Linked DNA regions of Homo sapiens. The protein of the gene in region 2 interacts with the protein of the main gene of each other region in a pairwise test. Each region holds a gene or a part of one and is shown on either strand. Other genes may lie near its edges.

Evidence for each region. Proteins that work in one complex are often made in the same cells at the same time.
Region 1: the proteins of DNAJA3 (region 2) and MET interact in binary tests that used the Homo sapiens proteins (3 or more experiments, as listed by UniProt).

The regions. Positions count from the first base shown.
Region 1 is NC_000007.14:116,752,194-116,759,218, reverse strand, and holds part of MET (hepatocyte growth factor receptor isoform b preproprotein), read right to left. Parts: intron 3,865-7,025; coding exon 3,704-3,864; intron 1,783-3,703; coding exon 1,680-1,782; intron 1,582-1,679; coding exon 1,445-1,581; intron 761-1,444; coding exon 599-760; intron 1-598. UniProt on the Homo sapiens protein: Receptor tyrosine kinase that transduces signals from the extracellular matrix into the cytoplasm by binding to hepatocyte growth factor/HGF ligand. Regulates many physiological processes including proliferation, scattering, morphogenesis and survival.
Region 2 is NC_000016.10:4,449,867-4,456,891, reverse strand, and holds the end of DNAJA3 (dnaJ homolog subfamily A member 3, mitochondrial), read right to left. Parts: intron 6,493-7,025; coding exon 6,395-6,492; intron 2,082-6,394; coding exon 1,978-2,081; 3' UTR 1,965-1,977; exon of another isoform or gene 1,964-1,964; intron 1,347-1,963; coding exon of another isoform or gene 1,324-1,346; 3' UTR 117-1,323; downstream 1-116. UniProt on the Homo sapiens protein: Modulates apoptotic signal transduction or effector structures within the mitochondrial matrix. Affect cytochrome C release from the mitochondria and caspase 3 activation, but not caspase 8 activation.

The DNA.
Region 1 (7,025 bases), on a different chromosome or scaffold from region 2:
TATTTTTAAAATGCATATTTCATAAGCTTAAGAAATGCATTTGTATTTTATTCACCGAATTACACAAAATAAATATTTCACCTCTGAAAAAAATACAAAGAAAACCGAACTTAACTATTGTTGCTAGACTGATAGAATTAACGGAAACAAGGCAGATTGAACTGGGTCCAATGAGATATCAATTCAAAGAGAGTCTGGCATAAAGAAAAGCTGTGTGTAAAGCAGGCAGGACAAAAACATATCTAGAGAATGGAAGAAAAAAGGTAATTCCACTTCTGGGCACTAAGGTTAGTATAGAATTGATATGTACATAATGTAAGTGCATGTATACTACAATGCCACATTAAACTATTTTGCTATACTCTGTTTAAATGTAATAGAACAGGATAAGATACTTCTTGGAATGAACTAGCATTGATAAGTCAAACTACACTCAGAACCTGAATATAGTTTTCTCTCCTGAATTGGAAAGAAGCCTTCAAAAGCAACATAACAGCATCAAAGCCAGAGATAAAACTGCAATTCCTCTTGACTATTCTACAGCAAAATCATCCTTGTATTCATTGTTTTCTTATACCCATCAGAAGCTTCTACTTACCTAATAAAAGATTTGGTTGGATGAATTTCATAGACAATGGGATCTTCACGGTAACTGAAGATGCTTGTCTCTCGGTTGGCTAAGTCAATTTTCAATTTAACAGCAAACTCAGTTGAAATGGTTTGGGCTGGGGTATAACATTCAAGAATACTGTTTGACACACTGAACAAAAAAAATTAAGGAAGTGAATTTTAGCTATTAGAGATACACATATTTTAGAATTATATCCACAAATCAAAAGGATATAACTCAATGGTTCCTAAGTGGGAATTTCCTGAGTGGAAGCCTTTTCTAGTGTAGGCTGTTTAATCTGACTGGATCTCAAACTTACCTTTGTTGTGGACAAGCTATCCTTGACTGGAAAACATTTGAGATTTGAAAAAAAAACCTTTAAAGTACTTTTGGTACTTGATTAAACTGAGCTCTTCCAACTCTAAGAAGCAGAAACATAACTGTCTTCCAGACCCAATTTTCCCCATTTCTTCCTTCCCCAGAGTGACTTAGTCTAATTACAAATCTTGATGAAAATGTTTATTTTAAATTATTATCAATGACCAGACTCTCACAGCTCATAGTATAGCTAAGATCCTAAGCTATAACAATAAAGAGGGTGGATGGGAAGACAAAACTGAAAAGTAGGATTGCTAAAAAACAAGAGAAAGGAAGAAAAATCAGCAAAAGGAGTAGATGAATTTTGGAAGGAGGAAGTTTTGTCAGTAGGAGAGTAAACAAATAAACATCTTGATTTTTCTTCTCCACACACACACACAAAACAATCTGCTTAATTTTTAAGGTACAGATATTAATTCAAATTGACAGATGCAACAAAAAATAAATTTACAACACCTTTTTAAAGTACATGTTTTTCCACCAATTGAAATGTGTCTAGAATTCCCACTGTTTAGGTAATTTCCAGTTAAAGTAAGTAAAGTGCCACCAGCCATAGGACCGTATTTCGGCGAAATACTTGTTATTACAGGATCCTGGAGGGGAGATAAAAACAAAACAAAGTAACTTGTTCATCTTATAATTTAAATAGATTAAGTAAAAATCAAACATGATAGGATAGAATCTTCCTTACCACATAGGAGAATGTACTGTATTGTGTTGTCCCGTGGCCATTTGAAATAATTATGGACATATTGAAATGCTTATTCATGGCAGGACCAACTGTGCATTTCAATCTGGAAAAAAAACCCAAAGTTTAATACATGACAAATCCAAGGAATTTTCTGGTTAGGTTGTTTTATAGGAAGTGACATTAACTCTAAATGGTGAGCTGACTGCTTTGAATAGCAAGCAGAGTTTCAAGATAAGCATTAAGGCCAAAAATTATATAATCCTATTTCTATACTATGATAAACTTAACTTTTATTTTTATGTAAAAAGAGACAGGATCTTGCTCTGTCACCCAGGCTGGAGGGCAGTGGCATAGTCATAGCTCACTGCAGCCTTGAACTCCTGGGCTCAAGGGATCCTCTGGACTCAGGAGTTGGAACTAGAGGTGCATGCCACGGCATCTGGTTAATTAAAAAAAAATTTTTTTTTTTTTTTGGTAGAGATGGAGTCTCACTACGTTGCCCAGGCTGGTCTTGAATTCCTGGGCTCAGGTGATCCTCCTGCCTTGGTCTGCCAAAGTGCTGGGATCACAGGCGTAAGCCACTGCACCCTGCTTATACTAAACTTTACATTAATGGTACTATAGCACTTATACAGACAAACAGGAAATATCAGACCTTATCCATAAAGACCTCACCAGTTGAATAGTGCATAATAATCTAAGTTTGGATAATATTAATATTTGGGGATAATCTTTGGTCCACTTCAGATGCATATGAAACAATGGGCTAACTACAAATAGGCCAATCTCTTCATTAAAGTATGTCAACAGGTACATTTCTGTGGTTATACTTGTACATGCTTATTTAAATTACTTAAATGATAATGAAATTGTGATGGCTTTCCATAGAATTATTTCTGAATGAATAATCATATAGTTCTGAGAAAATTTAAATACAATTTGATTTATTAAATAACTTTTTAAAGGAGAGAATGAATTATGCTTTACTTTTACAGGTCCTGATTTATATGCAATGATTAAGAGTTTTGGAGATTTTACAAGGGAGATTTCTAGAAAAAATTTGTTTTGCCATTCAGCTAACAAATATTACCTTCATTAGTGTTTTGGTCTCAGTAAAATGGATAGATTCGGACCTTTGTGTAACCCTGAAATGAATTCTATTAGATATAAAATAACCACCTGATAGAATGGGTTCAATCATAAAGATTCAACCATAAAACTTTAAATATTTGAGTGTTGTTATTATGTGATAATGAATAATTTCTGGATTCTCTGATGATTATGGAATTCAAAGCTTGTAGAAGGGTACATGTAGAATACAGTAGAACTAGCACGGGTCTTGGATCAGAAGATGATCAGAGCTGAGCTGAAGGCTTGTTCAGCTCTTACTCTCTGGATTACCTCTGTGAAGCCACACTTCATCTCTCTGAACTTCAGGTACCTCTTTTATATTATAGGAATGATACTGCTCCCTCCCAGGACCGTGGGGATGGTTCAGTGAGATACAGCCCATATATTGCAGTGCCAGTAAATATAAGCTGAATATAAATTTTAACTCATCTAAAAAAGTCTCAAACACGTGATTCAGCTGCCTCACTACATTTCTGAGGTTTAGAAAGTGAATTTAAAAGAGAGGATCCATGCTGAGCTGTTTACTGATTTCTGTAGAAAAAGCCTTTGGAGACTCTACATTTGAAGACTCCAAGGATGAAGTGATCCCAACTAGTGCTACTCTTGCAAATCTACTCAGACAACACCTGAAGACTTGTCGCATAAATGGTTGAGAAACTCCCATTTCTGGCCTCTTCTCTTCACCTAGGCCATGTCACCTTTCTCTCTCTTCAAATCCAATGAGTAAATGGGATTACAAGAACAAAACAGAACAGACCCACAAGGCATGTGACAGGCCAAGACCCTTTTTAATTCAAGAGATGAGCTTCTTGAGCAATTTTAAAAGAAATATTCATTCAAAAACAAAACCTATTTTCCAAGCACACCCCAGCAAAGCATTTTAAGATCCTTACGTATTCATCGTGCTCTCACTTAAAGTCAAGGTGCAGCTCTCATTTCCAAGGAGAACTCTAGTTTTCTTTAAATCAAATTTATTATTCCTCCGAAATCCAAAGTCCCAGCCACATATGGTCAGCCTTGTCCCTCCTTCAAGGGGTGCACTATTTGGGAAAACCTACAAGGACAACATAGAACTTTTAAAAAAACCCAATATATTATAATTTTTCACATATATGGAAAACGAACAAACAAAATGTATATCCTTAAATAGTCTGAAATTCTTTCATTTTCCCACAATTTAGTAAAAATTTAATTTTCACTAAAGGGAAAAGGGTCACAAATTTCAGAGCATCTGGAACAAACATTAAAACTACATGACATGTTAATGAAACAAGTTGTTTTCAGGAGATCCAAAGATGGGACAAAGAGCAGATGCAGCTTGGTAGGAATAAAGGGGCTTTTCGAGTCCTTCCGTTCTTTCTTTCTTTTCTTTCTTTCTTTCTTTCTTTCTTTCTTTCTTTCTTTCTTTCTTTCTTTCTTTCTTTCCTTTCTCTGCTTCCTTCCTTCTCTTTCTTTCTCTTTCTTTCTTTCTTTCTTTCTTTCTTTCTTTCTTTCTTTCTTTCTTTCTTTCTTTCTCTCTTTCTCTCTCTCTCTCTTTCTTTCTTTTTCTTTCCCTCCCTTCCTTTCTTCCTTCTTTCTTTTCTTTTCTTTTTCAGACAGAGTCTGGCTCTGTTGTTCAGGCTGGAGTGCAGTGGCGTGATCATGGCTCACTGCAGCCTCAACCTCTTGAGCTCAAGCAATCCTCCCACATTAGCCTCCTGAGTAGCTGGGATCACAGGCGTGGGCCACCATGCTTGGCTATTTTTTTTTTTTCTAGAGACAGGGTCTCACTACGTTGCCCAGCTGGTCTCAAACTCCTGGGCTCAAGTGATCCTCCTGCCTTGGCCTCCCAAAGTGCTAGGATTACAAGCATGAGCCATTGGACCTGGCCCTTTTTGGGCCATTCTGAAGTGAATTCATCTTCTAGGGCTCTTTAGGGTAGGAGTAGAAACACGTTGGGCCCAGACTTTTACTTGCTCATAACTCTGATTGTAACTCTTCATCAGCCTTCGGACTGAGCTCTTATCAAACTCCTTCATGTGCTCTATAAGCCAAGGTCCAGCCATTATACGCCTTGCTCTGTGCACTGGCTGCGTGCACTACATTCTGGTTGCTATGGTATTCCCCACCCAGAGACAAAAGTTGCACAGTAAAAATACCTCATTTGGTATCCAGTGTTTGCCCAGTTGCATTCAGCAGCTAGCATAATATGAAACATATAGATGGTTTTGGAACACATATCTGCCAATAATTCATTCATTCATTCATTCATTCATTATTTACTTATTTACTTTTAGAGATGGGGGTCTCACTCTTGCCCAGTCTGCAGTGCAGTGGCATAGTCCTAGCTCACTGCAGCCTCAAACTCCTGGGCTCAAGCAATCCTCCCGCCTCAGCCTCTCTAGTAGACAGGACTACAGGTGTGCGCCACCTCACCCAGCTAATTTTTAAATTTCTGTAGAGACGGGGTCTTGTTATGCTGCCCAGGTTTCATTAATTATTTCTTAATAAAGCACCTCCTATGCACCAGGCACTAACAAATGAAAAGTGAATCTACTTCTTTTTACCTATTAGTTCACATTTATTAATGACTGAAGATTTTTCCTTGTTCTTTAAATATGGTCACTATTTGATGTATACCAGGCTGGTTAGTTGACACACTCAGCCTTTTAAAAATTATGTAATATTTAATACATGTGTTATGTTGTTTCTTTTAGAAATAGATAAAAACGGAACCAGAGAGGGCCCAAAATCAGTATTGTAACAATTTTTCCTAATTATCTTCATTGGTATTGTTTTATATCTCATTTTTAGGATTAAATTTTTCCCCCTGATGGTTGATGTTAAGCAAATAACAGACTCATTTTGTTATTGCAGACTCATTTCTGGTATGTTATCAATGGATTTATTGATAAACCTTGGTCAGTCATGATTTAAGACCGCATTAGGCACCTATAAAGTGTGTAAGATAATTGCTCTCAGGCTAAAACTATTAAAACAAAACACATTTCCAAGTTAAAAATAAGCTTCTTCTCAGCAGCTTTGTGACAATTGAGAAAGGAAATGCTCTTTTGGGGGTGGGGACATATTGTAAATTGTGCTGTAAAGTACAATGGTGGGAAAACTAAGATAGAGGCAACTCAAGAACCAGTAAAGGTATTTGCTAAAGCTCAGCTTGTGAACATCTAAAAGTGATTCTTTTACAATTAAGAAGGGCTTTTAGCCAAATTCAAACTTGCAAACATTTCCATCCTTCCTAAGTAAATAATTGCAAACCAAAGTCTTAATGTACCCTCGTTATCAAACCCCTTTAAAGTTTTAGCTTAAAGCTTTTATGATAGCCATTTTACCCATAAAAATCCATTACACTGTTGTGCCTTTCCTGAAAATTTACCTCATCCATGTCTAGTCAAATGAGAACTACTAGAAAAATAAATCTGTTTATTATTATTATGGTAGAAATCCAGTAGGAGAGAACAAGACATCCAACCCTCCCAGGACTCTCTTCAGCCTGAGGCAGTCACACAGCTGCTGCCGGCTCTTCTAATGAGGAGGCTTCCCCACTGAAAACGCTGCCCAAGGCTGATGTTGGCCTGATCCCACTGCCTACATCCCGTCTTTCTATGTAAAAACTGAAGTCTGTCACTCTACACACATCATTACCATCACTTTCTATAAAAGGCAAACGGATTGGGTGATGATTTGAGAAAAGACGCAGAGAGCTGCGCAACTGGGGCACTGGCAATAGGAAGAGATATTATAAGCCCTCTGCTAGACCCTCAGGATCCAAGAGGCTCGCTCTGCTTAGCTTTTCTCTCTGGGCTGGGCATTTTCCCCTTAGCTTATGGGGTAACCTTTACCCTTCTAGGGAAAAAGGAAGGAAGCAGTTGTGAACTACACACCCTTGGATAGACCCAACAATGGCTGGCAAACTCTGAGTTATCCTGAAGGGCAGAGAAACTCTGTGGGCAGGAAATGAGCGTCCGGCATAAAGCCACAGAGGCTGGGTCTCCTACCTGTCTGGATAGGGGAGATACAGCCACAAAAGTAGCCCTTGTCTTTTCACAGGTGAAAGATCACATCACTGATGGGCCCATTCCAACAGTATTTTAAATGATCATGCTTTCAAAACCCATTAGGATAAAACATGAGAAAACTAAAAAACAAAAACAAAACAGAACAAAAAAACTCCAAAAGGGGTCTCCTTTCCTCTTTAGTAGAACTCACAAATATATT
Region 2 (7,025 bases):
CCTCTATGTGCTCTGGGTGGCTGTGAGCACAGGATGAGGCCAGCCAAGTCTCCTGTAACCCCCATAAGCCACCTGCAGAGGCTGTCTGAATTCTTTCAAAGAAGAAATGACCACAATTTAGGTTTGAAATATCTTTTTGCAATAGATAATCTTATTTACATTAATACAGAATCATTTTACATTCCTAAATCAGACACTAATAGATGCTTTATTTTAGTGAATTATAAAGGAAAACAAAAAGGAAACTGTTGAGAAGTGTTCTTCATTAACCTGTCTAACGACAGCCCGAAGATCCTGAAACACATGGAAACTGCGACATGCTACCAGCAGAGGCTGGGGAATGGGGGTTCTGCTCTCACTGAATGGTGGGGAACCTTCAACTGCTTAGCCTGTGCTTTCCTTTTCTGAATCAACATTTACAAAGGAAAAAACAATGATTAGCACTGAATAATTTAAACACACTTCAGAAAATAGATGTCAACAGTGTAAGTGGGAGAACCAAGCCCCTGACTAGCAACAGTGGCAGGGCTTCAGTTCCCAAGGCAGCTGAAGTCTGGCCAGCACAGTGCTGCAATGGGCTGTGGCTCAGCAGAAGGGCAGGAGCCCTCCATGCCTGGCTTACAACAACAGGACTCAATAGTCAGGGACAGGCGGCCATCCCGGATGGGGTGGGAGCAAGGACTGTACATCCTGACAAGGATCACCACCCACACGGTCAGAGCAGAACCCCCAGGGACTCTCTGGGCCTCTACGTGCCTCCCAGGCACCGACTGTGCAGCTGCTTGGTACCCCGGGAATAAAAACTAACTGAGCAGAGCAGCTGATGCCTCGGCAGGGCCCCTCATTAGGGGAGGACGGTGCTGGTGGGGCCTGGGGGCCCCACGCTCCCAGTGAAGACAACCTGTCAGGAAGAACTCATTCTGGAACCTCCCGGAGGTTTGCTGAGAAGGAAATTAATCACTTCGTAACTTGATGCAGCTTAAGGCTTCATTTCTAAGCTGTAAGCATGGCCTTTAACTAAGATATCCACAATATTCAATTCCAAATTAGAGTTTTAGCCCTGCAAGAGTCTAACCATCTCCCTCTGCCTGAGCCAGGGGCCGTCACCTACCAATGGACAGGAAACTGCCACCAGCCTCTGGGGCTGCATCCTACTGCCCGGGCTGTCCACTGTGACCTTTCCGTGGAGAGAGGTGTTGTCCCATGATTTTGCTGTTGCCAAGGCCGTCCAGAGGCTCTGCGGGTGGGAGCTCAGTGCTGCTGTTCTGGAATCCTCCCGTCTCCCAGGTGCCCTGGCCCTTGGAGGGGCTGCTGCTTCCCGGCCTAGTTTCCAGTGGATCTTTTTCCTGAGCCAAAGAGATAGGCTGTTACCTTATACTCAACATTTCAAGGGAACACACCCCTGTGGGGAGCGTCTGTTAATCCCTGGAAAGCAGCTGTGCCAAGAGAGGGGCGAGAACCCCACTTGCTGAGATGAGCATAATAAACCAAAGTGGGTCCCAAGATGACACGGCGAGCAAGCGCTACCCCTGGAGCAGCCCCCAGGCTTGCACAGCCCTGCGCTGTCCACGCAGGAGGGCAGCTTCCAAGCAGGCAGGACGTGAGGAGATCTGAGTTCTAGGCCTGGCTCTGCCTGACTCGCCCTCTGTGACCATGGGCAAGCCGGACCCACCACTGCAGGGGGGCTGTACAACAGCCCCAGCATCGCCACCTCCCCAGGAAGAAGACACAGCCAGAGGCTGGCCGCGGCAGCCCAGCCAGTCCTGCACTACAGGCTGATTGCCACGTCATCTATTCCCTAGGCTGAGAGGCCAGCTCCTAGTGGAGCTAGGTTTACCACACCTTGGACTGGCACCTGTTCCAACTCCTGGGGGTGGGGGCACAATATTGGTTAAAGTGGGAGAAAACCAGGATTAGTTCACAGAGGAAAACAAAGGGAAAAAAAACCTCCAGGGTTTTCCTACCTCGGCTGGGATATCATGAGGTAAACATTTTCTTAAGTTTGGAAAGGAATCCCTCCTCGTCCTCCCCAGCCTCACGCCTAGCCTTGCTTCCTGCGGAGCTATCCATGGTGCTGCCACCTGGGCACAAACAGCAGAAAGAACTGGCGTCATGGGCCTGCACTTCCACAGTCACATCCCAGGGCCCACCTACCCCCGCCTGGCCACCCAGGGGCCCACGTTCAAGAAGCGGCCAAGTGCCACCTCAAGAAGAGTGGGGGCCACTCCTAAGATGGCACAGGATGCCTCACCTTGCAGACGACTGAGGTGAACAGGCCACTCAGAGCCTGAGGGTCTCCCAACTGCTCTTTCAATCAAGGACCCACAGCAGGGAAACAAGAAATAGAGACGGACTATGACAGCTGTCTCTATCTGAGCAACAGTGACAAAAACACAGTCAAGTGCCAGGCACCTCCCAGGCCAGGCCATACACTTCCTTACAGGCAAATTTCACAGATGAAAAAACAAAAAAAGGAGGCACAGAGAGGTTACAGGGTTTACCCAAGGCCACAGAGCCAACAAGCGGGAGGGAGGACTGAGTGCGAGCCCATGCAGTCTGACTCCAAAGCTGAGACTCAACCACCATGCTGTTGGCTATAAGAAGGTAAATAATGACTGCCAAGAAAAACCCTACTCTAGACCAACTGGCCAGATTCCATGCTGCTGTGTGCGCAAAGACCCTGCAGAACAGCCCATGTGGGAGTCACGGCCACGCACAATCCTTTGTCACAGGCACTCCATCTCATCCCTCACATCAGCAGTCTATCTCCCTGAGCAAGTTGTCCCCATTTGGGGCACCTAACCTAAATGCTCTCAACCTAGGGAAGCTGTGCTGCAATTTCTTTAGGGCCCAGGCTGACACCATCTAGAGGTACTTTCTCACACAAACGTGTTACAGATTTGCCAACTACTAGACAAGGAGTGCACACTTTTGTTGTGAGTTAGAATATAGACCTGAACTTGGCATGTTAATTGTAGAGCTCATTTTTAATGTGCTCAGAGACCTAGGCCACGCACAGTGCATAAAAGAGTAAAGGCCTCAGTCTAAGTAAGAAGGTGCCTTCGCTAGTGAAAGGTCCAAAGTTTGGGGCCACAGGTCCCCGGGAAGGGGTGAGGGAGGCTACATAAAACAGAGTGAGACCCAGTCTCAAAAAAGAAAAGGCCGGGCACAGTGGCTCACGCCTGTAATCCCCGCACTTTGGGAGGCCAAGGCAGGCGGATTGCCTGAGCTCAGGAGTTCGAGACCGGCCTCGAACATGGTGAAACCCATCTCTACTAAAATACAAAAAATTAGCCAGGGGCGGCATGCACCTGTAGTCCCAGCTACTCGGGAGGCTGAGGCAGAATTGGTTGAACCCAAGAGGCAGAGTGCGTTGCAGTGAGCCGAGATCACGCCACTGCACTCCGGCCCGGGTGACAGAGTGAGACTCCGTCTCCAAAAAAAGAAAAAAAAAAAAAGAACAACAAGGAGCCATACTGTGTCTCTCACTCAAAAAGTCACATAGTAATTGCAAGCCCCCCCAGTTCCCTCTCTGTTCGCCAGAAGATGGACCTGTTTATCCCTGCAAGTGCTGAGTCTCTAAGCACACCATGGTCTTTCTGGGAGACCGGGGTCAGCTCTTAAGGTTTTCAGCAGCTACATTAAGATACTAAACGCATCAAAAACTATGCTGGTCAGGCACAGTGGCTCATGTCTGTAATTCCAACACTCTGGGAGGCCAAGGTGGGAGGATCACTTGAGTCCAGGAGTTTGAGGCTGCCGTGAGCTATGACTGCACCACTGCACTCCAGGCTGGGCCACAGAGCAAGACTCTGCCTCAAATAAATAAATAAATCCCACTGTTGCTTAAGTTCTTAGGACATGAGAATTATATGTCCTGTAATACTGTCATATGTGGATGCAAAACTAACTGTCTTCACAGTATAATGAGAGACTTAACCACCCACAGGCAGCAGACTGACATGTGACGGTGTATGCTTAGGGACAGAGTCTTGCCCTGGCACCCAGGCTGGAGTACAGTGTCGCTGTCATGACTCACCGCAGCCTTGAGTACTAAGGCTCAAGTGATCTTCTCATCTCAGCTTCCCAAGTAGCTGGTGATAGAGGTGCATACTACTTTGCACCTGGCTAGTTTTGAAATTTTTTGTAGAGACAGAGTCTCGCTATATTGCCCAGGCTGGTCTCGAACTCCTGGGTTCAAGTGATCTTCCTGCATTAGCCGCCCAAAGTGCTGGGATTATAGGTGTGAGCCGCTGCATCCGGCCTCACCAAGATCTTTAAAAGGAAGAGCTGACAGTGTCTTGCACACAGGAGAAGACATCCTGGCTGAGTGAGGGAACAGCTGAGTGAGGCTGAGTGATCAGGACAAGTAACCATGGAAGTGACAAAGGATCTCAGTGGGTGGCGGAATCAACTTTCAACTTACAGTATCAGAGAGAGGGTCAAAACATCAACTGGTGACCAGTAATACCCAACCTCCAACAGAGTAAGCAACACCCACGAACCCACCCAGGGCCCGGCCGTAGCACACCTCAAGCTACCCTGATGGGCGGGAGGAGGGAAGGACAGCTGTCTATGGAACCAATCTCGCATGTTATGTGATTGTAGGGTTTGAGGAAGGAGAAGCCACAGGTGCACTGATTAGAGTTCCGGGGAATAGCTACTCTATTACCACTTCTATTTTAGTTCAAGAGATACAACAAGAACAAAAGATAGTATACATATACACAGTATATGTACCAAACCATTAAAATAAGTGACATTTGGAACCTGGTTGGGCTACAGAGTTTTGTGGCAGCTGCTTTTTTGTTGTTGTTTTTTTGAGACAGAGTCTCGCTATGTCACCCAGGCTGTAGTGCAGTGGTGCAATCTTGGCTCACTGCACCCTCTGCCTCCTGGATTCAAGCAATTATCCTGCCTCAGCCTCCAGAGTAGCTGGGATTATGGATGCCCACCACCATGCCCCGCTAGTTTTTGTATTTTTTTTTTTTTTTTAGTAGAGACAGGGTTTCACCATGTTGGTCAGGCTGGTCTCAAACTCCTGACCTCGTGATCCACCCTCCTCGGCGTCCCAAAGTGCTAGGATTACAGGCGTGAGCCACCGCGCCAGGCCCTTTTTTTTTTTTTTTTTTTTTTTTTCAGAGAGTCTCACTGTCACCCAAGCTGGAGTGCAGTGGTGTGGTCTTGGCTCACTGCATCCTCTGCCTCCTGGGTTCAAGCGATTCTCCTGCCTCAGCGTCCTGAGTAGCTGAGATTACAGGCATGCACCACCATACCCAGCTAATTTTTGTATTTTTAGTAGGGATGGGGTTTCGCCATGCTGTCCAGGCTGGTCTCAAACTCCTGACTTCAAGTGATCCACCTGCCCCTGCCTCCCAAAGTGCTGGGATTACAGGCAAGAGCCACTGCGCCCGGCCGGCAGCTGCTTTTTAACAGAGGAATTCCAGTCCCCTGGGAGCAACAGGAGCTCAGTGAAATTCCAGGGACTTCCATCCCAGCCCCTGCCCCTGCCCCTGGAGCTCCAAATCCTCCACTTTATTGGAAAATCGGCCCCCAGCTCCAAACACCTGCTACGAATTACCATGCACTAATCTAAGGCTGCTCAAGTTCTGAGAACTCCACCCAGGATCCAAACAAAAACAAAATGATGCAATGAGGAGGAAATACATGCCGCCTGAACCAAGGACCCCTGGGCACAGCCTGCCCTGCCCTGAGCCAGGAGTCCCAGGAAAGAGGCCCCAGACCCCATGGGAAGAGGGGCTGCAGCTGGGGTGCCATTGTCTCAGCGCCCACAGCAGGTGTTCTGGTGACAGATCCCTAACACAGCCACTCGCTAGCACGATGTCTGAGCTCAGGGTAAATGGTGCATCTGTTCACGGCTAGATAACTTGGAGGGAGTCCTGCTCTAAAGCGGCGGACGGAGTCTGCTGACTGCGGCTCCACTGCTGTGGCTGCTGTTGTTTTAAGACACTCTGAAATCCTGGCGGAGTGTCCCAGGTGGGAAGTGCACAAATCCTTCCAATCCATGCTCTCTCCTTACGCTTTTGCCAGGAGCTCTCAGGGAAGGATTTGTCCGAGGTCACAGGGCAAGTGGCAGAACCAAGAATAGAACTCAGAACACTGGGTCTGAGACACGCAGAGCTGCCTGCAGGAAGTGCCCTGGTGCTCTCACCTCAGCACAGAAACACACACAGAGAGAGGAGGCGAAGCTTGGACTGGGGGCTGCGGCTCCCTGCCCGCTGTCCCCGCCCACAGCCCCCCTCTTTCAACTGCACATTTTAAAGGCTTCATGAAGAACCCGAAGTGGAAACCCCAACATGCTGCCCTGAATTGTCCATACCCTGGGGGGCTCTGAGGCCCCCACGTGTCACCATGTAGTCTTCAGACTCCTTACCAGAGCTGGTGAGGGTGACGCCGTTCACCGTCCCCTCCACATCTGTCTCGTCCTCGGCGTAGCTCAGGATCAGGCTCTGCTGCCGGCTCGTTAGCCTCCTGTGGACCGAGCAGAGTCAGCAGCCAAGGCTTCCGCCGGGAAGCTTTGGAAAGAACTCACAGGCAGCCAGCACCCTCGCAGCACATGGGAAGAGAGGGACCCAACCTTGGCAGGGGCGGACACCCTGAGCCAGTGCAGCGGTGAGAACCTAAGGACCATGCCCTCAAAGCTTCTGTACAGAAAAGCTCCTAAAACACCCTACACTAAGTCATTTAAACAAGTGTCACTGTGGCTATGCTAAATACAGTTTACAGGAGGGGAAACAGATTTTACCAGTGTGTATGTGAAGCAAGTAAGAAATTATCTAATTAGGCCAGGCGCAGTGGCTCATGCCTGTAATCCCAGCATTTTGGGAGGCCAAGGTGGGCGGATCACAAGGTCAGGAGATAGAGACCATCCTGGCCAACAAGGTGAAACCCCGTCTCTACTGAAAATACAAAAATTAGCTGGGCGTGGCGGCACATGCCTATAGTCCCAGCTACTTGGGAGGCTGAGGCAGGAGAATTGCTTAAATCTGGGAGGTGGAGATTGC